Homo sapiens: one gene and its partners. The protein of the gene in region 3 purifies or fractionates together with the protein of the main gene of each other region. This does not show direct contact. Each region holds a gene or a part of one and is shown on either strand. Other genes may lie near its edges. The genes, in order: HNRNPM, DHX15, TOPORS, UPF3A, SMARCC2, PML and DDB2.

Region 1 (3,500 bases), on a different chromosome or scaffold from region 3:
CTGAAAAATCTATAGAAAAGAACTGGCCAAGAGAACTGAGGGCTAACCTGGCACAGGTTCAAGTGAAACCATATGGTAATTTTCTGTTTATTAGTGTAACTCCAATTCAAACTCTCAGCCCTAATCACTGAAACACTTACGGGGAAGTTGTTGTGGACGCTCAGGAGGGAAGAAATCTCCTTTTGGTAAGGCCCTCTCATCCTGAAAGAGAAAGAAAACAAACAAATCTCAGTATCCAGTGCAGCAGTGTTTGCAACAGCAAAAGACTGAAATGGCCCCCCATCAAGAGAGGACCAGCTAAACACATTATCCACGCCATGGAGTAATACGCAAGGGTAGAAAGGCATGCGGAGCATGCTTCCTATTTTATGTCAAGGGAAAAGACACATGGATATTATTGTGGGGGATGATGGGGACCTGGGCAAGAAGTCCAAGTAGGACTCACACTATCTTCACACTACCTTTTCATGCCTTTTGACTTTTGAGTCACGTGAATCTATCATCTATTCAAAAAACTTACCTACTCTATTTAGAGTAATGAAAAAATTGCTTTATAGTTTATCTTTTTCCTGAATTTGAGTCCCAACTAGACTGCCCTCAGCATGTTCCAGTCATGCCTGTAGTAATTATTATCTTTGGCACAGTTACGGCAGAGCAAATGTTTATTAAGATTGAAGTGCTCCAACAGACCTTTAAAAGCTGTCTGAATCAATGACTTAATTATGTTCACAACAGATTTGATGCTAACCAAACATTATACTGTAATACTTTGAAAAACTGGAACCCCACATATATAACCATTCTTTGAAACGGATCACTTGCTCAACCAGGATACCCAGGTGACTTCCTGAATGCGCCATGAACAGTCAACTGTGCAAAAGGAAAAATATCTAATGCAGTCAAGAGCTGCCATGAGCAAAATGTTTTTTTTTCTTCTTTTTTTTTCTTGAGACAGAGTCTCACTCTGTTGCCCAGGCTGGAGTGCAGTGGCACGATCTCGGCTCACTGCAGCCTCTGCCTCCCACGTTCAAGTGATTCTCCTGCCTCAGCCTCCCGAGTAGCTGGACTACAGGCGCGTGCCACCACGCCCGGCTAATTTTTGTATTTTTAGTAGAGACGGAGGAGTTCCACCACGTTGGTCAGGCTGGTGTCGAACTGCTGACCTCATGATCCGCCTGCCTCAGACTCCCAAAGTGCTGGGATTACAGGCGTGAACCACCACGCCTGACCAGCAAAATGTTATTTCTCTCACAATTTTGCTCAACATACTGCACCCTATTTAACTTAGACTAATCCACAAATATTTCATAGTGGCTATATGTACACTCTTATTAATTCCATGTTTTTGCTAGACTTGAGTATATCACAGAGAAAGATCCTACTGACTTACCATCTTGACGTGCATTGGTCTATCAAATAGCAGCTGGCCATTGAACATAGCTGGTATTACAATTAAGGCTATTTCTTGCAATTCTAAAAATGTGCACAAGAGAAATACAAAAAGAAAGAAAAATACTCCAACTGCTACCAGTCCCTCTAAGTGATGAATTTATGAGCAATTTCAATTCTTCATTATACTTTCAACAATAAACATAAAAGGAACAATAAATAAAGCTGGCGGGGAGGACAAGACAACTTCCGCTTATTCCTTAGGTGTGAAGCTTCATTCGTAACCTTACAATTTCACCAAACCATCCTCTTAAGCAGTGGCATCAAGGTTCTCTGAATGTGACCAATGGGCCAGGCATCTACCACTATCTAAACTGAAGGACCATGTTTTCTGGGTAAGACATGCAGTGACGGTCTTGTCTGAGTTGTATGAATGTGCTCCTGTGGGGTACTCTCCAAGGGATTAAAAACTCTAGGCTAAGCCTAGGGTCAAGGAGAAGTGGCCTCTTCCAAAATGATGTCTACTCACTGGAAAGAGTGAGGTCCTATAAGGATGTATTACACATGAAACAACAACCCCACTTTCTCTCTAGTAGCACATTCTTTGGACTTCCTCCTTCAAACCTAGACTCTTCTGAAAAGAAAACAGTAGAAAGACTCATGGGCATATGCCCATGTTGTAACCATCCCCTCTATCCACACTGTATTGAATCAATTCCACCCCCAGAGAACCTTTTTTTTTTTTTTTTTTTTTTTTGAGACTGAGTCTCACTCTATCACCCAGGCTGGTGGTGTGCAGTGGCGCAATCTCGGCTCACTGCAACCTCCACCTCCCGGGTTCAAGCGATTCTTGTGCCTCAGCCTCCCGAGTAGCTGGGATTACAGGCACCCACCACTGCGCCCAGCTAATTTTTGCATTTTTTAGTAGAGCCGGGGTTTCACCATGTTGGCCAGGCTGGTCTCGAACTGACCTCAAGTGATCCGCCCGCCTTGGCCTCCCGAAGTGCTGGGATTACAGGCGTGAGCCACCGTGACCGGTCCGGCCCAGAGAACCTCTTAATTCCACAGTAATGCACTCCCCCTAGTCACATAAAAAACATGAATACACACAGTCACCTCTTCCTCACACAAACCTACATTACTAACACAGCAATTTAGGTCAAACTGTTCATAAGTTGAATTCCTGCAGAAGGATACATATAGCTTGCACAGCTTCAATGGACTGTTCAAAAGTAACAGTGCCTATTCCACGACTTTTTCCATCTTTATCTTCAAGAATGTCTGCTCGGACCACCACACCAGCCATACTAAATACTTCCTTCAGTTTCTTCCAGCCAACTTTATAATCCAGCTAATCGAGAGAGAACGGGGTAAAAACCTCAATGTAAACATCTTAAGAAACACAACATTTTTACTACATGAATGATACATGCTTTGGTTGGAAAAAAGTATTAGGAAATAATGTCACAAAAACTAATCAACTGCAATGGAAATTTTAAAATAGGATTATAAAGCCTGGCCTTCACTGTAAATAAACTGTACCTATAGTAAATATATTGTCTCTTTTCTCAGAAACTTAAGTCACCTCATACTTCAAATTAATACTCATTTTCTGAACATTTTTAAAAAATTGTTTCCCTGATAAGCTTTACCACTCCCCACCCCACCCAACCTACTTTATTCTAAAAATATTTCCCCTTGCAGATGGTGGAGGTATTATCATTCACCCCAGACACAACAAGAGGAAGGTGTCAGTGCACTTCTGCTCGTACAGTCTTACTCTGCACCAAAACTGCATAAAATAAACCAACGGAGAATGCAGACTCGGTTACTGCTTGCGGAAACACCTGCGAAACTCAGGAATCACAGCCCCAACGAGACCACGGTCAAGCCTGTGACTTAGGAATGCAGACAAAGCCCGCCTATAAGGCTGATTTTTAAAGAAATCAAGAACAAAACCCTTCTTTACATTTTTCTTCTCAAATGTGAGAATTACTTTTATAACATATTGACAAGGTCATTTCATAAAGTTCTGATTTTCTACTTTAGACGATGGTTCTGTTTACTTACATTTGCTACAAATACTGTGCTTCCAAGTCTTCCAGCCTGTA
Region 2 (3,500 bases), on a different chromosome or scaffold from region 3:
CAATCTGACGTCATTTGTTTTTATCTTCCATTTATGTATCAGCATTTGTTTAGTGTTGATGCTGCCCCTCAGTCCCACTTCTTTTATTATTGAATTCCTTTTGTGCTTTAAGATTATTTCTTTGGGGTGGGAGGACTCACGCTTTCAGCCCTTTTGAACCAAGAGCCTGTTGTTAGCTTATTAAGTAAGGAATTGTTAAGGCTTAACAAAAAATGTTTATTTGCATGTGGTAACATTTTAGTGGTGTGACATGAAGCAACTTAAAATGGTTTATTAGATTTTGCGTGTTGAATATTTGTATGTTTTTAAAAGGTTTAAGAAATTGAAAATGACGAATTTTGCCTTGGCATTCATGTGAAACCATGTGATCATTATGTTCCATAATTGGTCATATCATGTCTTCCCAGTACATTTCAGTATTACATTTTTCAAGAATTGATGAAGCATATCTTGTTTCATTGTATACTCTTAAAAGATTTTCTTGAAACTTAATTTTGCAATTGATCATGAAACAGTAGCACATTTGTTTGGGGCAGAAGTTTATTTTTAATTTACCTTATGTCTTTGCATTTCATTTTTGTCACGAAGTTTGGTTTTAAAATGACCTAACGGAACCTTTAACCAACATGTTCTTTGGAATATAGGTATATGACTGATGGGATGTTACTTCGTGAAGCTATGAATGATCCCCTCCTGGAGCGTTATGGTGTAATAATTCTTGATGAGGCTCATGAGAGGACACTGGCTACAGATATTCTAATGGGTGTTCTGAAGGAAGTTGTAAGACAGAGATCAGATTTAAAGGTGAAGTAATTTCTTCTCTCCATTTAACTATATATGTGTGTATGTGGGCATAAAAATGGGGAATACATACTGATCAATAACCAACTGTAAGAAATCACCTGTAAAAGAAGGAACTAGTAAGTACCTTCTTGTTTTGTTTCTGCTTTGCTGTGCTTTCATTTTAGACTTTATTTCTCCCCCTTTATAGTAATGCATTTTTAAGCCCAATCTTCTCAATTTGTAACCCACCTAGTTCTTTTATAATCTAATAACATATATGTGTAACTGTGCTACTCACTGTACCCTTCATTAAGTACAGAGGCTTATTTTACTTAAGGATCAAATCTTTCTCCCTCAGATCCATGTCCTTGTCTCATCACAAACACCCATTGTAACTTATAATGCTGGAGAGTGGAAATAACTATACACAGGACAGGCAGCTCCTTAGAAATGTAGTCACTTACCCTCGTGTATTACTTCTTTCCTCCATACCACATGTACCTTGGCCCCTGTTACTGTATTGATTAAGGGCCTAAAACTATTTTCTGACATTTTTGTCCCCCAAAGTCTATGATGTTCCCCTTTTTGCTGTGTTGTGTGTGTATACTATTCATTGGAATGTAGACTCATCCCTTGTTGATACAAGTGTTATAGAAGGGTTCATAGCCTGGTGACAGAGTGAGACTCTTAGCAGAAACAAACAAACAAACAAGGGTTCAACACTGGCAAGAAAGATTCTGGGTCTTTAGAAAAAAAACTGAGGCCTGAGCATGTTTTTGTTTATACAAATTAGATCAATGCTTTAAAAAATATATTTAAAGAATAATGTGAGTACTATCATTATTTATTAAATTTATTGTGCTACCAAGGTTTTAGTGAGAACCTGAAAGTAGAAATTAAGAACTCTTATGAAACTTTTTATGGAGGAACCTTTTTATATCTGGTCCACTTATTTTTTTTTTTTGCATTTTCTGTTTTTTCCTATTTGCAAAGTTTTGTTTTAATAATGGTAGCAATAATTATACTGCATATTAATGTTTTCTTTTAGCAATCTGAATTACATATAATTTTATAAAATCTGATTTTAAGGTATTTTATGAAGAAATGCTGTAGTTTGTGCATTTATTTTTTTTCTAAATTTTTAAAAATGTAAATAACTTTTACTATAGTTCAGCCATTATGTATTTGATTTTTCATTTACAGTTTATTTGAAGGTTTTCATGGGCATTTTTATAGCTGATATATGTAGAATAGTAAATATTGCTATACTGTAAGACCATGTAAGAATCCTTGAAGACAGCTTCAAATAATTTACTGTTTTCTTTCAGGTTATAGTTATGAGCGCTACTCTAGATGCAGGAAAATTCCAGATTTACTTTGATAACTGTCCTCTCCTAACTATTCCTGGGCGTACACATCCTGTTGAGATCTTCTATACTCCAGAACCAGAGAGAGATTATCTTGAAGCAGCAATTCGAACAGTTATCCAGATTCATATGTGTGAAGAGGAAGAGGGAGATCTTCTTCTTTTCTTAACTGGTCAAGAGGTATTGTTTTAATTTTCTTCATTATTTAGCTTTTGACATACTGTTTCTAATATGCAGCAACCTTAATCATAAGAACATGTTAATCATATTTTTTATTTCAATGTTCTTCAACCTGATTGTATTAATATGTAAAATATATAACCCCTTTTATCTGCATACTGTAGGAATACTTCTGTATACCACTAGAGTTTGTGTTATAATTATTTTAAGAGTGTTAAATGCTTTTGGAATTTCAAGATTTTGCAATTGTAGTTTAAGAGATCCCTGGGATATAAGTGCTATTATGCTGAAGCATGAATGTGCATCACAGCTGCTTTGAAATCAGGTTATCTTCATCAGTATTTAGCTTGTGAGTGAACTTGGGTGCCTATTCATCATCAAAACACTTCAGTTTGGTTTTGTCTTCCCATATGCTCATGAAATTTGGGAAGGATTACTAAAAGTTCTTAGTTAGAATTTACTTCATTTAAAATTTTATTCTCAGATGTAGCATTTCTTTTTTTTTTCGAGACGGAGTCTTGCGCTGTCGCCCAGGCTGTAGTGCAGTGGTGCAGTCTTGGCTCACCGCAAGCTCCGCCTTCTGGGTTCACGCCATTCTCCTGCCTCAGCCTCCCAAGTAGCTGGGACTACAGGTGCCCGCCACCACACCCGGCTAATTTTTTGTATTTTTAGTAGAGACAGGGTTTCACCGTTTTAGCCAGGATGGTCTCAATCTCCTGACCTCGTGATCCACTCTCCTCGGCCTCCCAAAGTGCTGGGATTACAGGCGTGAGCCATCGCACCCGGCCAGATGTAGCGTTTCTAAGCTTCTTTTCAATAGGGTGTTTATAGGTGTGCTGTGGAATACCTGAGTGGCTAAATAAATTCAGAAGCTATTTGGATAATACAAAGTTTTAAAAAGCCTTTTACGAAAGGGTTTTTCTTTTTCTTTTTGGGGGTGGGGAGGGAAGACAGAGTCGCGCTCTGTCAACCAGGCTGGAGCGCAGTGGCATGATTATCGGCTCACTGCAACCTCTGCCTCCCGGGTTCAAGCGATTCTCTTGCCTCAGCCTCCCAAGTAGCTGGGATCACAGGTGCCCACCATCACACCTGGCTAATTTTTTTTTAATTTTTAGTAGAGACGGGGTTTCACTATGTTGGCCAGGCTAGTCTCGAACTCCTGACCTCAGG
Region 3 (2,543 bases):
AGAACTAGAGATAGCAGTTGGTCCAGAAGAAGCCAAACTCTGTCTCTAAGTAGTGAAAGCACAAGCAGATCAAGGTCTCGTAGCAGTGATCATGGTAAAAGAAGATCACGGAGCAGAAATAGAGATCGTTATTATTTAAGAAATAATTATGGAAGCAGATACAAATGGGAGTATACTTATTACAGTAGAAACAAGGACAGGGATGGGTACGAATCATCTTACAGGAGGAGGACTCTGTCCAGAGCTCATTATTCTAGACAGTCTTCAAGTCCAGAATTTAGAGTTCAGTCCTTTTCTGAAAGAACAAATGCTAGGAAAAAAAATAATCACAGTGAGAGGAAGTATTACTACTATGAAAGGCACAGATCAAGGAGCCTGTCTAGTAACAGATCAAGGACTGCATCTACCGGGACTGACCGGGTGAGAAATGAAAAGCCTGGAGGGAAACGAAAATACAAAACACGGCATTTGGAGGGTACTAACGAAGTGGCTCAGCCATCTCGTGAATTTGCTTCTAAAGCAAAGGACAGTCATTACCAAAAATCTTCATCAAAATTGGATGGAAACTACAAAAATGAGAGTGATACCTTTTCAGACAGCCGATCATCAGACAGAGAGACAAAACACAAAAGGAGAAAAAGGAAGACCCGGAGCCTAAGTGTAGAGATAGTTTATGAAGGAAAAGCTACTGATACAACTAAACACCATAAAAAGAAAAAGAAGAAACATAAGAAGAAGCATAAGAAACACCATGGAGATAATGCTTCACGTTCCCCAGTTGTAATTACCATTGACAGTGACAGTGATAAGGATTCTGAAGTAAAGGAGGATACAGAATGTGACAATAGTGGTCCTCAAGACCCTCTACAAAATGAGTTTTTGGCTCCTTCCTTGGAACCATTTGAAACTAAAGATGTAGTTACAATAGAAGCTGAATTTGGTGTGCTGGACAAGGAATGTGATATTGCCACACTTAGTAACAACTTGAATAATGCCAACAAAACTGTAGATAATATTCCACCTCTGGCAGCTTCAGTTGAACAAACTCTCGATGTAAGAGAAGAGAGCACCTTTGTTTCTGATTTGGAGAACCAGCCCAGTAACATTGTGTCTCTTCAAACTGAGCCATCAAGGCAATTGCCATCGCCACGGACATCATTAATGTCAGTATGTCTTGGTAGAGACTGTGATATGTCTTAAAACTGCCAAAGCATTTCATTGAGAATTATGATGTTATAAAAAGGAAAAAGGAAGAATGTCGTCTACTGCAGTCTATTTAAAGATGACATTTGGTGAAAACTCTCTTCCTCCTTACAATATTTTAAATGATTTTTTTTTTGGTGTTAATTTGTAAAAATCATTATTTGTTCAAAATGTATGTCCCACCCTCAAAGATATGCACTTTTAAGTGAAGAAAATGATACTGCTAGCAGCTTATTTAAAACTTGGGGTCCTTTTTAAATAAGAAAAATTATATAAATTTTAGAAGTTATTTCATAAAGCCATACGGTATTGACATATTTTTAAGGTAGTCAATGAGTATTTTTGAATTTTTTTTTTTTGAGAGTTATTCTGGAAATGTGTTATAAGCTAGGAGAATCCCTTTGGACAGTCTTTATTTTTCTTCTTAAAAATTTATATGATTCAAAACCATTTCTTCAGGTTAAATTGAGGCATTTTAATCTGCACAGTTTATCTTCTGCCAAAATAAAAATTTACTATTTCCTTTATATACTTGTTTATCTGGACTGCCAGTAAAACAAATGTGTATTCAACAAAAGAAAAAAAATAAAACAGTAACACTTTAAAACAAGAATCAGACATTTTCCTATGCAGTATTTTTTTTTAAAGTTTATTTTAGTAAAGTTAAAATCTTGAAAGTAGCTAAGGGCATAATTATGTCATAAATACTGAACTTCAGGTGAACAAATACTTTATAGTTTTAATTATTTTCTTTGATTTTGAGGAGTATCTTATTTGCTTTCTATCATCAGTAAAAACAGCATTTAACTTGCTAAATAAACATGAAAAACCCTTGTCATACTTCTTTTACATTGGTAGTTCTTTCATATAAAGTGGTTATGTTTTATCTTGTTTTAGGGATGATAAAATTACATCTATGCTGATGTAGGATTGCCACTGAACAGTGGAGCTTGAGTTAAATCTTAATTCAGCCTTCAGTTTGCCTTTGCCTTGCTACTGTATTCATTCTTTATTCAGTAGAAATTGCAGTGCCTACTATGTGGCAGGTTCTGCACTAAGTTTTGGGGTTTTTTTTTTTGTTGTTGTTGTTGTTTTTTTTTTTGAGTTGGAGTCTGGCTCTGTTGCCTAGGCTGGAGTTCAGTGGTGCAATCTCACTTCACCACAACCTCTGCCTCCCGGGTTCAAGCGATTCTCCTGCCTCAGCCTCCGGAGTAGCTGGGACTACAGGCACGCGCCACCATGTCCGGTTAATTTTTGTGTTTTTAGTAGAGGCGGGGTTTCACTATGTTGGCCAGACTGGTCTCAAACCCCTGACCGTGATCCGCCCGCCTCAGCCTCCC
Region 4 (3,500 bases), on a different chromosome or scaffold from region 3:
CACTTGGCCTTGTGTCTTGGGGAACGCAGTGCTTTGAGCATTTTCAAGAGCAGTTTTTCCTGAAAGTCAGATCCCAGAGTGAGACTAGTCATCATCTTTTCTCAGATAATCAAATTATTTTTCACCAGGAAAAAGAAAGATTTTATTTAGTATAAAACTAGCACGTTTATATGATTCACTTGAGAATAAGATTATTAAATTTACCCTTGAGACAGGAAGGAAAGTTTTAATGATATTTCATGGAGGTTTCTTCCACATTATTAACAACATTCTGATTATTGGTGAATATTCCCATGGCTCACAAACACCTGTAAGTTAGATCTGCACGGACGGTGAGCACAGGACTGTGGTTACCCCCTTAGCCAAGCAAACAACTTTTTTTTTTCAGGAGCTAATTTTTGTTCAGGTTGCATTTTCCCAGCGCAGCACTACAGATGGCATCACCTTTCTGACAGCACCAGGCCCCACCCTGGCCTCCTAGCAAACTGAGGGCTGCCTAGGGTTCCAGTTCCCACTCACCTCCCTCCCCATGTCTAACCCCTGGCAGCCACTGTCTGTTCTCTGCCTCTGTGATTTTGTCATTTCAAGAATGCTTGATAAATGGAAACACACAGTATGTGAGCTTTGAGAGTGGCTTTCTTCACTCAGTCTAATTCCTTTCAGATCCTTCCAGGTTGTTGTGTGTATGAACGATGTTCACTTTGAAACTGTTTCAGTGTAGCTGGGCATGGTGGCTCACACCTATAATCCCAGCACTTTGGGAGGCTGAGGCGGGTGGATCACCTGAGGTCAGGAGTTCGAGACCAGCCTGGCCAACATGGCGAAACCCTGTCTCTACTAAAAATACAAAAAATAGCTGGGCGTGGTGGCGCGCCTGTAATCCCAGCTACTCAGGAGGCTGAGGCAGGAGAATTGCTTGAACCTGGGAGGCGGAGGTTGCAGTGAGCCAAGATGATGCCATTGCACTCCAGCCTAGGCAAGAAAAGCAAAATTACCTCTAAAAAAAAAAAGTTTCAGTGAAGTCAAGGCTGAAAGCCAGAGGAGAGCCTTCTTGTCTTCACCCTTGAATGAACACCTCTAGAATACTCCAGTTCTCTGGGGTTGCCTGGACCTCGGGGTGCACAAAGTACAGCCATGCGTCTTTTTGATAGGGCGTTGCTCATAGGAGTCCTCAGTCTTCAGTTGGCTTATTTTAGCAGTGGTGAATGGCCTGGTGTTTCCCCCGACCTGAGGTGGGGGAGCATTTGCTCCTGTGTTTAGCCTCACAGTGCTGTGGTGGGAATGAGGCGCTGTGTGCAGGAGCTACTTTCCCGGGAGCCTGGCATTTGTCATGTACTTCTAAGGTCAGGCTCCATGCTCCATCTGTGTATACAGGTATTGCCCTGGTAAGAAGCAGAATTGTCGGCCCGGTGCGGTGGCTCATGCCTATAATGCCAGCACTTTGGGAGGCCAAGGCGGGTGGAACACCTGAGGTCAGGAGTTCGAGACCAGCCTGGCCAACATAGTGAAACCCCATCTCTACGGAAAATACAAAAATTAAGCGGGCATGGTGACACATGCCTGTAATCCCAGCTACTCAGGAGGCTGAGGCAGAAGCATCACTTGAACCCAGGAGGCAGAGGTTGCAGCGAGCCCAGATTGCGCCATTGCACTCCAGCCTAGGCAACAAGAGTGTAACTTTGTCTCAGAAAAAAAAGAAAAACAAACAGAGCTATGCGTGCTGGCTCCAGGCAGCCTGTCCAGGGGCCTGCTGAGCCTGTTCCCACCCCTCCCATTGGTCAGGTTCATACCAAGGAAAAGAAAATTAAGTTAAACCCCCTGGTGGTAAGCAGATGTGGGCTTCCACACACAGTCCAGGAGGAGGTAGAGGTGAGCTGGTGAATCCTGGAGAAGGAGCGCATGAGATGTACCCACATGGTCGTCCTTGCAGCCCACACTTGGGCTCCTGGTGGCTGTTGGAGGCTAAGGCTGCAGCTCTGCAGGGAGAATAGGCAGGGAGCGGGAGGCGCGTGGAGCAGGAGGCTCACGGAAGCTGGAAGCCGCCTTCCTCCTCTGCCACCCCTTCAGTGCTGGGGCAGGGCTGGTGGCCCCATCAGGAGGAATTGTGCTGCTGTCGCTGCTGACACTAGCCTTCAGGGCCACTCTATGCTTCCCTGGCTGTTGCCTTCTTCAGGCCCTCAACAGCTGCCCTTCATGGACTTCATGGGTCATTTTTATTGCTTCACCTCCAGGAGTTTAATAAAATGATGGGGTGATGTCTTCTAAAAAGGGACCAGTTCAGTCTCCCTGCTGGTACATGCTAGGCAGGGATAAGCCCCATGGAAATTGCTTACTACTCACGTTAATAAGTTTTAGTTGGCAGATCTGAAACCATCTGTGAGGGTCCACATCTCATTTTGTTCACTTCCCAACTCAGAGGGGGACGTCATGATTGTACTGTTCCCACAGATTACATGTTCTTGTTTGAGCAATAACATTTGCCCAGATAACCAGTGTTTACATGGCTTTTTTAATTGCCTTAGAATGCCTGGTTTCTGAGATAGTGCTGTGAAAAAAGGGCTGATTTTTAGCTGCCTAGTTGATTTTCTTTGGACAATTCATATCATCAAGTTCTAGAAATATAGGGAGATATTGACCCTTCTGTGTTGCTACCTCTTGGAAGAGTAACATGCCCTCTTATCCTGGCAGGACCGGCCAGCCTTGCAGCTGTATGATCCAGGAGCTCGCTTCCGAGCGCGAGAGTGTGGCGGAAACAGGAGGATCTGCAAGGCAGAAGGTTCGGGGACTGGTCCTGAGAAGAGGGAAGAGGCAGAGTGAGTCACTGCACGCACCTGGCCTCCATGGACGAGCAAGGGCATCCCAGAAACGTGTAAATGACCCCGAGTGTGACTGGGAAGGAGAACTTATTCCTTACCAGGAAACTGGAAGCTAAAAATACAGAGGGTGACGTAGAAACACGCAGAAACCATTCTAAAGAAAGTAGTGATCTTGTATTAAATTGAGCAGAATTCTCACAGATTTTACCATTCCTGTTATAAACTAGTATTTGTTGTTTAGCCAAAACAGAAAATGATTTCCACTGGACAGTAGAAAAATATGTGTAAAATAGGGAAGAAAGTTAGTATTGGATCAGTGTGAGTCCTGAAGCACTTTCAGTGCTGTGAGAACGACATCCACTTTGGGTTTCATTCGTTTGTAAGCAGAGGAGCTGTCAGTCACTCGTGCTTCTCGGTGGCCTCTGAGCCATGGTGTCGAGTGAAGAGTAGTTCTTGTTTGTTACAACCTTTGTGAGTCAGCCATGCCCGCAAAGCGTGCTGTGTTTTAGTCCTGGTAGGAATATTTATCAGAGTTCACACTATATAAAACCCAACAGCTTCAACTATTGCCCTTTCAACAGTTTTGCCACTGACCGGATAGAAACGGTTTCAGTCTCTGGATGGATGTGTTTGTGGTTTGTAACCATTACGGTTTAAACCATGGTTTAAGAATTTGCCCAAATA
Region 5 (3,500 bases), on a different chromosome or scaffold from region 3:
CATGCACCTGTAGTCCTAGCTACTTGGGGGGCTGAGGTGGGAGGATTGCTTGAGCCCAGGAGGTTGAGTCTGCATTGTGCCATGATTGCACCACTGCACTTCAACCTGGGCAATAGAGCAAGACCCTGTCTCAAAAAAAAAAAGCATGTAAAATATCATCTAGTATGGTTATGATTATGTAAAAACATCATCTAGTATGGTTATGATTATGTAAAAAGAAAATTGTGGACCAGGCACAGTAGCTCACTCCTATAATACTAGCACTTTGGGAAGCCAAGGCAGGAGGATCACTAAAGGCTGGAAGTTCAAGACCAGCCTAGGCAGCAAAGTGAGACCCTGTCTTAACAAAAACAAAAACCCCAGCTGGACGCGGTGTCTCATGCCTGTAATCCCAGCACTTTGAGAGGCCGAGGTGGGTGGATCACGAGGTCAGGAGCTTGAGACCAGCCTGGCCAAGATGGTGAAACCCCGTCTGTACTAAAAATATAAAAATTAGCCGGGCGCAGTGGCAGGCACCTGTAATCCCAGCTACTCGGGAGGCTGAGGCAGGAGAATCGCTTGAACCCGGGAGGCGGAGGTTGCAGTGAGCCGAGATCGCGCCACTGCACTCCAACCTGGGTGACAGAGCAAGAGCAAGACTCTGTATCAAAAAAAAAAAAAAATTACTGTGGAGGAAAAACAGATATACAAGTATCAAGAGTAGTTACGTAAGGGTGATTCTTTTTGTTCTCTATTTTTGAAATGTTTCGTAATGTGCTTTTACTACTTTATAATGAATAGAATACAAAAAAAATAAGCCAAGAACCCAATACTTTCTGTAAATGGAAAGGGTAAAAGATCTGCACTTTACTTTTCCACAATTCTATCCCATTGATTCTACTGTGTGCTCAATTTCCCATGGCAGTTACGACACGTGGATCCCAGCGAGTGAAATTGAGGCATCTGTGGAAGATGCTCCAACTCCTGAGAAACCTAGGAAGGTGAGCTTTTCTTGTATCCCCTCTTCCCCAAAAAGAATGCCAGGAACAGTCTACCCTTTGGAAGTGAAACAGAGGCTTGTATGCCCTTGAGCTTTTTCTGTTAAGGGTCCCCAGACAGAGCTGTGGCTTCCAGGCTTCTCTGCAGCATGATCTGCCTTTGTACTTTAGGTTCATGCAAAGTGGATCCTGGACACCGACACCTTCAATGAATGGATGAATGAGGAAGACTATGAAGTAAATGATGACAAAAACCCTGTCTCCCGCCGAAAGAAGATTTCAGCCAAGACACTGACAGATGAGGTGACAAATCCTGTTCTTTTTTTCCTGGCGCCCTTAGCATAAGTCTCAGAACAAATCTTCAGTGGGGATTGTAGGCTGACATTTGTCCTGATTCTCCATCCTATAGGTGAACAGCCCAGATTCAGATCGACGGGACAAGAAGGGGGGAAACTATAAGAAGAGGAAGCGCTCCCCCTCTCCTTCACCAACCCCAGAAGCAAAGAAGAAAAATGCTAAGAAAGGGTGTGCCAGCCCCTAGCCTGCCCCCGTGTTCACCATTCTCTCCACATCATGTTGAAGGAAGGAAAGACAAATCCCTTCCTATAACCACCTGGCCCTGACCTGGGTGTGCCATAATACTGCAGGTGTCCTGAGAGGGAAGATGAGGAGATCTTTAGCTGCTCAGTTGTTAGTTCTGGTTCTGGCCCCACTAGTACATTTAAAGAGAGCTTTATCAAGTGAAAAGCCTTTGCCACTTCCCATTACTGTGTGATTACTGGTTTCTGTTTGTACTCAGCTCTACCCTTGGAATTCTCTGTCACTTCCCTTCCCTTGAACTTCAACTTCCAGGGACTCCTTGTCCAAGGATGACTGGGTTCTCTTTCACTCTCTTTCCTTCCCAGTCCCTCAACACCTTACACTAAGTCAAAGCGTGGCCACAGAGAAGAGGAGCAAGAAGACCTGACAAAGGACATGGACGAGCCCTCACCAGTCCCCAATGTAGAAGAGGTGACACTTCCCAAAACAGGTACAGGCCAGGCTGAGCTCCTGGGATCCACCCCCACTCCCCGTCTTGACTCTCCTTTGCCAAACCCCAAGTGAGCTGATTTCTCAGGTCCACCTCCCAGTCTACAGGATCTTTTCCTTAAATTTAGCTGGTTATTGGAATTACGGTCATTACCCTGGAAAATCCTCTAACTGTATATTCATATCTGAGTTGTGGACTGTGCTTTGTGCCTGATAGTAGTTGTCTCCAAACTCTTTGATTATGTGTTTCTGACAGTAAAATATATTTGAGCATGGCCAGGCACGGTGGCTTATGACTGTAATCCCAGCATTTTGGGAGGCCGAGGCGGGCGGATCACCTGAGGTCAGGAATTCGAGACCAGCCTGGCCAACATGGTGAAACCCCATCTCTACTAAAAATACAAAAATTAGCTGGGCGTGGTGGTGGGCACCTGTAATCCCAGCTACTCGGGAGACCGAGGCAGGAGAATTGCTTGAACCTGGGAGGTAGAGGTTGCAGGGAGCCGAGATTGTACCACTGCACTCCAGCCTGGGCGACAAGAGCAAAACTCCATCTCAAAAAAAAAAAGGGCCGGGCACGGTGGCTCATGCCTGTAATCCCAGCACTTTGGCAGGCCGAGGTGGGCGGATCACGAGGTCAGGAGATCGAGACCATCCTGGCTAACATGGTGAAACCCTGTCTATACCAAAAATACAAAAAAATTAGCTGAGCGTGGTGGCGGGTGCCTGTAGTCCTAGCTACTCAGGAGGCTGAGGCAGGAGAATGGCGTGAACCTGGGAGGCGGAGCTTGCAGTGAGCTGAGATCACGCCACTGCACTCCAGCCTGGGCAACAGGGCGAGACTCCATCTCAAATAAAAAAAAAGAAAAAAAAATGTATATATGCATTAATTATGTACTTGTACTGTTAAGCCGCTACCATGGGAACGTTTTAAAACACAAACATATCTAAAAAATTGAAAAATGTAAAGAATGATAAAAACAAACATGAAGAATCAGGGCGCGGTGGCTTACGCCTGTAATCCCAGCACTTTGGGAGGCCGAGGCAGGCGGATCACGAGGTCAAGAGATCAAGACCATCCTGGCTAACACGGTGAAACCCCATCTTTACGAAAAATACAAAAATTTGCCAGGCGTGGTGGTGGGCGCCTGTAATCCTAGCTATTCGGGAGGCTGAGGCAGGAGAATCACTTGAATCTGGGAGGTGGAGGTTGCAGTGAGCCGAGATCGCACCACTGCACTCCAGCCTGGGCGACAGAGCGAGACTCCGTCTCAAAAAAACAAAACAAAAAACATGAAGAGAAGTTCTGTATTCTCTCCCTGAGTTGCAGTGGATCATCTTTTGCGTCCTATGTTAGAACCCCACTTTGGAGACATTGCTCCACCAATACTGGTTTACAGTCTGTATTCTGTAGACTCACCCCAGGTATTCCAGAAGTGTATTTCAGGGGTAGGATTAGGGCTGCCACCAAGAAGAGTTCTGGCTTCTACCTCC
Region 6 (3,500 bases), on a different chromosome or scaffold from region 3:
GCTAAGATAGAATTATGCTATTTTTCTTTCTTAATTATTATGTAATCTAGCCACTTTGGTGAGCAATTTCTTATTAAGTTAGTGGTGTTTTTGCTTATTGTTTTGAGTATTCCAGAAGCAAATAGATGTTATTTCGCCTTTCTGAAGATACGGTTAAGTCTGGGTTCTTGTCACGGAGCCCTTCTGGGCAGTTTCCCACTTCACCTCTGCCTCCTCCAAAGTGCCAAGCACGCAGCAGGTACTCAGTGAGTGTCCTCTGAATGAAGGTAAAGGAACCGCTTGGCTAAGGTCATTCCTGGCCCTGGGTGGCAGCCCTTTGATTCAGGATCTGCACCTCAGTCTTACCAGAGGGCTGGGGGCTTTTAGACCCAGGTGTCTGATTCAGGCTAGCCACCTCACAGACACTTGCCGCCCATTTCCATCTAGAGGGAAAGCAGGGGCCAGTCACCCTAGGGAGACCCCATTCAGGACAAAAGAAGCTTAGAAAAAGGACCCAGCGGAGGCTATGGCCATCCAGAACGTCTTGCTCTCTATCCAGCCAGGCTGCCTGAGGCGTGCCCTTCCAGGCTTGGAACCCTGTCTCCAAGGAAGGGGATCCAACATCAGACACAGCCCCTCTCCCCAAGTGTCCAAGATCCAAAGGGGGAAAATAACAACTGTTTCTTATTCTCTTCCCTTTATTCCTATACCCTATAGAATTGCCCACATTTATTAGTATTCTGTTTTTTAATTTCAAAAAAAGGAATACATTCATACATTCACAAGGCTCAAACATAATCTAAAAAGGTATGCAGTGAATGTCTTACTCTACCCTCATTCCACCCATCCCATAGCCACTTTTATTAATTTGCATGTCCTTTTAATATTTATTTATTCAAATACAATCAACTATGAAGATATTCTTATTTTTCCCCATTCTTACACAAAAGGTAGCATCTGATACACACATTTCTGCACCTTGATTTCTAACTTAAAATATATATCATAATAATACAAATAGTTAGCATTTATTGAACACTCATTGTATGCCAGTCATTTTTCAAACTTTTATCCATATATTAACTCATTTAATCCTTCCAGTACTCCTATTATTAACCTCATTTCTCCATGGAGAATTTTCCTTATCAGTATATAAAGAGCTTCCTCAATGGCTTACAGCTACATAGTATTCCGTTGTATGGGTGGATCATAATTTATGTAACTAATTGCCTTGTGAGGGACACGTGGGTGGCTTCTAATTCTTTGCTATTGTGGACTGTGCTGCAGTGAATATATTGTATGGATATCATCTTGTTATGTGTAGAGATAGAGCTGCAGAGCAGATCCAAAGAAAGAGGATTGCTGGGTTAAATGCATTTGTAATTCTGATGGGTATTGCCAAATTGCCTTCTGTAGAGTTATTAGTTCTTTTCATAATTGCTTAGTATTTCTAATTAAACGTAGCATTGATGAGCACTATGTATCAGTCTGGCTGGCTAGTAGGCTCTCTGTTGGTGGTTCCAGAACAAGTTGATCTCAGTGTAGTCCCAGATGAGACCCTTTCTTCTGGCCTCAGGTGGGCTGACTTATTCCTTTTTTTTTTTTTTTTTTTTGAGATGGAGTCTTGCTCTGTTGGCCAGGCTGGAGTACAGTGGTGCAATTTTGGCTTACTGTAACCTCCACCTCCTGGGTTCAAGCAGTTCTCCCACCTCAGCCTCCCAAGTAGCTGGGATTACAGGCGCACACCACCAAGACTTATTCTTATCACTGCCGGTGAGAGTAAATTACAGCAATATTTCTGGGGAACTAACAGTATTTTCCCTGGTAATATTTGAAGAAGCAGCCTTGTAATGGTTAAGAACATGGACTCTAAGCTGGACTGCCTGGGTTTTTATATTTTCTTTCGCTGCTGTAACAAACTACCACAAATTTAGGGGCTTAAAACAATGTAAATGTATTCTGTTATGGTTCTGGAGGTAAGAAGTCTGAAACAGGTCTCACTGAGGTATATAAAGGTGTCAGCAGGCTTTGCTCCTTTGGGAGGCTCTCAGGGAGAACGTTTTCTTGCCTTTCCCAGCTTCTAGAGGCTGCCCACATTCCTTGGTGCATGGCCCCTTTCTGTCTTCAAAGCCGGCAACATCACAACATTCCCACCTCTGCATTCATCACATCACATCTCCTCTCATTCTCCTGCCTCCCTGCCCTTTCCTTTGAAAGGATTCACGTGATTACGTTGAACCCACCCAGATAATCTAGAATAATCTCTTTATCTCAAAGTCCTTAATTGAATAACACCTGCAAAGACCCTTTTGCCATAGTAAGGTGACATATTCACAGGTCTCAGGAATTTGCACGTGGACATCTTTAGAGGCCACTATTCTGCTACTACAGTTTGCATCTAGACTCTACCACTTACTAATCGTGTGATCTTGAACAAATTATTTTGCCTCTTGCACCAGTTTTCTCATCCTTAAAATGGGGATAATAATGGTATCTATTCCACTGGATTGTCAGGAGGATTGAATGAGTAAATATTTGCCAATGCTTATAATAGTATCTGAGACACAATAAATGCTATGGAAGTATCTGCTAGCTAAAATATATTAACCAGGCCAGGCACGGTGGCTCACACCTGTAATCCCAGCACTTTGGGAGGCTGGGGCGGGTGGATCACCTGAGGTCGGGAGTTCAAGACCAGCCTGACCAACATGGAGAAACCTCGTCTCTACTAAAAATACAAAATTAGCCGGGGTGGTGGCGCATGCTTGTAATCCCAGCTACTCGGGAGGCTGAGGCAGGAGAATTGCTTGAACCCGGGAGGCAGAGGTTGCGGTAAGCTGAGATGGTGCCATTGCACTCCAGCCTGGGCAACAAGAGCGAAACTCCATCTCAAAAAAAAAATAACCAAATAAAAATATTAAAATACAAACACTTTGATCTAGCAGGCCTATATTTATAATCTATTTCATAGGAACAAAAGCTTCCATGATTAGGCTATATAACTTGGATATTACTAAAGTGTTGTCCATATTGGCACCAAAAGAAAAAAAAAAGGAAAGGAAAACGAAAGAAAGAAAATGCACAAACAGGAAATTACCTGAATGCCAGCAAAACGACAGTGATTGAATCAATTGTGGCCCATCTGGGATATACCAGAGCTATTAAAGAGAATACATCTGATCTGTGCCTATGCACCTAGAGGAATGCTCTGAGTGAAAGTTCGTTGAGAGGAGGAAGTTCAAAGTAATTATATGACTTGATTTATTTCTTTCTTTTTTTTGAGACGGAGTTTTGCTCTTGTTGCCCAGGCTGGAGTGCAATGGCACCATCTGGGCTCACCGCAGCCTCCGCCTCCCGGGTTCAAGCAATTCTCCTGCCTCAGCCTCCTGAGTAGCTGGGATTACAGGCATGCGGCAACACACCCGGCTAATTTTGTATTTTTAGTAGAGACGGGGTTTCTCCATGTTGGTCAGGCAGGTCTTGAACTCCCGACCTCAGGTGATCCTCCCGCCCCGGCCTCC
Region 7 (3,500 bases), on a different chromosome or scaffold from region 3:
TCACTCTATTGCCCAGGCTGGAGTGCAGTAGCACGATCTCGGCCCACTGCAACCTCTGCCTCCTGAGTTGAAATGATTCTCCTGCCTCAGCCTCCTGAGTAGCTGGGATTACAGGAGCCTACCACCATGCCCAGCTAATTTTTGTATTTTTAGTAGAGACGGGGTTTCACCGTGTTGGCCAGGCTCGTCTTGAACTCCTGGCCTAAGGTGATCCACCTGCCTTGGCCTCCCAAAGTGCTGGCATTACAGGTGTGAGCCACCGTGCCCAGCCTGAATTTTATATTTTTGGTAGAAACAGGGTTTCACCATATTGGCCAGGCTGGTCTCGAACTCCTGACCTCAAGTGATCCGCCCGCCTCGGCCTCCCAAAATGCTGGGATTACAGGCACGAGCCACTGCACCCGGCCTGGGTTTTTAAAATTATATCTTTATTGAGGTATAGTGGACATAAACTGCAGCTATTTCAAGTGTACAATTTGGCTATTCTCAGCCTATGGGGTAGTCCTACTCCAGAGAAGCAGTAAGAAAAAAAGAATAAATTGTACAATTCCATGAGTTTTGACATATGTGTACAACTGTGAAGCCATCACCACAATTAAAATAACTCCCATTTCCCCACCCTTTGTTGAATATTTGGAGAGTGATAGATAGATGAGTTATCTATGCCCCTTTGTAATCCACCCCTCTCTACCCAATATCTTATTCACTGTAAACTGCTGATCTATTTTTTATTTTTAGAAATTAATTTACATTTTCTAGAACTATATATAAATAGAATCATAGAATATATGGTCTTTTATTTTTGTTCTAGCTTGTTTCAGTATAATTATTTGAAATTTATCTACATTTTTATGTGTAGTTTTTTTTTTCTTTCTGAATAATGGTTCATTGTTTTTTGTTTTAAGACAGGGTCTTGCTGTGTCACCCAGGGATGATCATGGTTCAGCATAGCCTCAACCTCCTCAGCTCAAGCGATTCTCCCACCTCAGCCTCCTGAGTAGCTGGCACTACATGCACAGGCCACCATACCTGGCTAATTTTAAAATTTTGTTATAGAGACAGAGGTCTCACTGTGTTGCACAGGCTGGTTTCAAACTCCTGGCCTCAAGCTATCCTCCTGCCTTAGCCTCCCAAAGTGCCGGGATTATAGGCGTGAGCCCCTGCACCCAGCCACATTGTACTGATATGATACAGTTTATTCATTTACCTGTTCAAGGACATTTGAATTTTTTTCTAGTTTTTGAATGCAACATATAAAGCGACTGTGAACATTCACGTACAAGTATTTGTGTGGATATATGTTTTCATTTTTCTTGGGTAAATACTTAGCAGTGGAATGGCTGGATTATAGAGTAGGAATGTTTTAAAGATACTTTTTAAATGAGAAAAGGTTTTTCTATTTGCCCACATATTGTCATTTCCAGTGCTTTCATTCTTTCATGTGATCCAGATTTCCTTTTGGTAATATTTTCTTTCTGCCTGAAGAAATTCCTTTCATATTTCTTATAATGCAGATTGGTGATAAATACTTTCCACTGTTGTTTATCTAGAAAAGTATTTTGCCTTTATTTTGAGGGAGGATGTTTTTGCTAAGTATAGAATTCTAGGTTCACAGTTTTTAAAATTATTTAACTTTTATTTTTTAATTGGTAAATTAAAATTGTATTTTATTGCATACAATATATTTGTTCACAGTTTTCTCCTGTCAGTACTTTAAAGATGATGTCTAGGCTGGGCGCTGTGGCTTACGCCTGTAATCCCAGCATTTTGGGGGGCCAAGGCAAGTGGATCATTTGCGATCATGAGTTTTAGACCAGCCTGGCTAACATGGTGAAACCCCGCCTCTACTAAAAATACAAAAATTAGCTGGGTGTGGTGGCGCTCACCAGTAATCCCAGCTACCCGGGAGGCTGAGGCATGAGAATCTTGAACCTGGGAGGCAGAGGTTGCAGTGAGCCGAGATGGTGTCACTGCACTCCATTCTGGGTGACAGAGCAAGACTGTGTCTCAAAAATAAATAAATAAGGCTGGGCGCGGTGGCTGACACCTGTAATCCCAGCGCTTTGGGAGGCCGAGGCAGGCGGATCACGAGATCAAGAGATTGAGACCACCCTGGCTAACACGGTGAAACCCTGTCTGTTCTAAAAATACAAAAAAAATTAGCCAGGCGTGGTGGTGGGCGCCTGTAGTCCCAGCTACTTGGGAGGCTGAGGCAGGAGAATGGTGTGAACCCAGGAGGCAGAGCTGGCAGTGAGCCGAGATCGGCCACTTCACTCCAGCCTGGGTGACAGAGCAAGACTCCGTCTAAAATAAATAAATAAATAAAGAATAAAAATAAAGATGATTTCTAGTTGGGCTCAATGGTTCATGCCTGTAATCTCAACACTTTGAGAGGCTGAGGCTGGGGGACCTCTTGAGGCCAGGACTTTAAGACCAGCCTAGGAAACACAGCAAGACCCCATCTCTACAAAAAAATCTTAAAAATTAGCTAGTGGCTTGAACTTGTAGTTCCAGCTGTTCAGGAGGCTGAGGTGGGAGAATTGCTTAAGCCCAGGGGGACAAGGCTTCAGTGAGCTAGGCAAGCCTGGGTGACAGAGCAAGATCCTGTCTCAATTAAAAACAAAACAAAACAAAACATCCTGATGAGAAGTCTGCTACTATCCTTATGTTCCTGTCTATGTAATTTTTCTTCTGGTCGCTTTAAAAATGATTATGATGTGCTTGTGGGGGGATCACTAAGCTTCTTTGATTTATGGATTTTTTTTTTCTTTTGAGACAAAGTCTCACTCTGTCGCCCAGGCTGGTGTGCAGTGCCACAATCTCGGCTCACTGCAACCTCCACCTCCAGGGTTCAAGCGATTCTCCCTGCCTCAGCCTCCCGAGTAGCTGGGATTACAGGTGCCCACCACCTCACCTGGCTAATTTTTGTATTTATTTATTTTTATTTTATTTTTTTAGTAGAGACAGGGTTTCACCATGTTGGCCAGGCTGGTCTTGAACTCCTGACCTCCAGTGATCCGCCCACCTTGGCCTCCTGAAGTGCTGGGATTACAGGCGTGAGCCACCTTGCCCAGCCCATTATTTCTTACAAAGAGTTCAAAATGAAGAAAAAGAACAGTTCTTTTTTTCTTGGGACTGCGATTACATATGGTCCTGCAGGTGGTTGATGCACTGTTCATTTTTGTCTTTTTCCCTGTTTCATTTTGTGCAGTTGTTCACTGATCTTTACTTCTGTAATATCTAACCTTCTGCTGTCAATCCCTCCCTCCCTCCCTCCCTTCGTTCCTTTCTCTCTCTTCTCTTCCTCTTCCTTTTCTCTTCTCTTTCTTGCCTGTGCAGAGCAGGGCTGCTCCATAGGCAAAGTAGCCCAGCGTATTTTTCATTTCAGATACTGTATATCCCCTCTAGAAGTTTAATTTGGATTTTTTTTCATGTCTTCCATTTCTCTCCTCATATTTATTATTTCCTCTTCTTTCTTTTTTGAGATGAGGTCTCACTCT

The links.
Region 1: the proteins of TOPORS (region 3) and HNRNPM purify together in Homo sapiens (affinity purification with mass spectrometry, with the first as the bait; one study listed by BioGRID). This does not show direct contact.
Region 2: the proteins of TOPORS (region 3) and DHX15 purify together in Homo sapiens (affinity purification with mass spectrometry, with the first as the bait; one study listed by BioGRID). This does not show direct contact.
Region 4: the proteins of TOPORS (region 3) and UPF3A purify together in Homo sapiens (affinity purification with mass spectrometry, with the first as the bait; one study listed by BioGRID). This does not show direct contact.
Region 5: the proteins of TOPORS (region 3) and SMARCC2 purify together in Homo sapiens (affinity purification with mass spectrometry, with the first as the bait; one study listed by BioGRID). This does not show direct contact.
Region 6: the proteins of TOPORS (region 3) and PML purify together in Homo sapiens (affinity purification with western blotting; 2 studies listed by BioGRID, with this or other methods). This does not show direct contact.
Region 7: the proteins of TOPORS (region 3) and DDB2 purify together in Homo sapiens (affinity purification with mass spectrometry, with the first as the bait; one study listed by BioGRID). This does not show direct contact.

What each region holds. Positions count from the first base shown.
Region 1 is NC_000019.10:8,465,475-8,468,974, reverse strand, and holds part of HNRNPM (heterogeneous nuclear ribonucleoprotein M), read right to left. Parts: coding exon 3,460-3,500; intron 2,741-3,459; coding exon 2,587-2,740; exon of another isoform or gene 2,361-2,586; intron 1,474-2,360; exon of another isoform or gene 1,441-1,473; coding exon 1,391-1,440; intron 202-1,390; coding exon 141-201; intron 1-140. UniProt on the Homo sapiens protein: Pre-mRNA binding protein in vivo, binds avidly to poly(G) and poly(U) RNA homopolymers in vitro. Involved in splicing.
Region 2 is NC_000004.12:24,553,555-24,557,054, reverse strand, and holds part of DHX15 (ATP-dependent RNA helicase DHX15), read left to right. Parts: intron 1-644; coding exon 645-804; intron 805-2,111; coding exon 2,112-2,330; intron 2,331-3,500.
Region 3 is NC_000009.12:32,540,044-32,542,586, reverse strand, and holds the end of TOPORS (E3 ubiquitin-protein ligase Topors), read left to right. Parts: coding exon 1-1,200; 3' UTR 1,201-2,043; downstream 2,044-2,543. UniProt on the Homo sapiens protein: Functions as an E3 ubiquitin-protein ligase and as an E3 SUMO1-protein ligase. Probable tumor suppressor involved in cell growth, cell proliferation and apoptosis that regulates p53/TP53 stability through ubiquitin-dependent degradation.
Region 4 is NC_000013.11:114,302,101-114,305,600, forward strand, and holds part of UPF3A (regulator of nonsense transcripts 3A), read left to right. Parts: intron 1-2,688; coding exon 2,689-2,817; 3' UTR 2,818-3,500. UniProt on the Homo sapiens protein: Involved in nonsense-mediated decay (NMD) of mRNAs containing premature stop codons by associating with the nuclear exon junction complex (EJC) and serving as link between the EJC core and NMD machinery.
Region 5 is NC_000012.12:56,179,484-56,182,983, reverse strand, and holds part of SMARCC2 (SWI/SNF complex subunit SMARCC2), read left to right. Parts: intron 1-904; coding exon 905-980; intron 981-1,148; coding exon 1,149-1,280; intron 1,281-1,386; coding exon 1,387-1,502; intron 1,503-1,882; coding exon 1,883-2,007; intron 2,008-3,500. UniProt on the Homo sapiens protein: Involved in transcriptional activation and repression of select genes by chromatin remodeling (alteration of DNA-nucleosome topology).
Region 6 is NC_000015.10:74,018,716-74,022,215, forward strand, and holds part of PML (protein PML), read left to right. Parts: intron 1-3,500.
Region 7 is NC_000011.10:47,221,474-47,224,973, forward strand, and holds part of DDB2 (DNA damage-binding protein 2), read left to right. Parts: intron 1-3,500.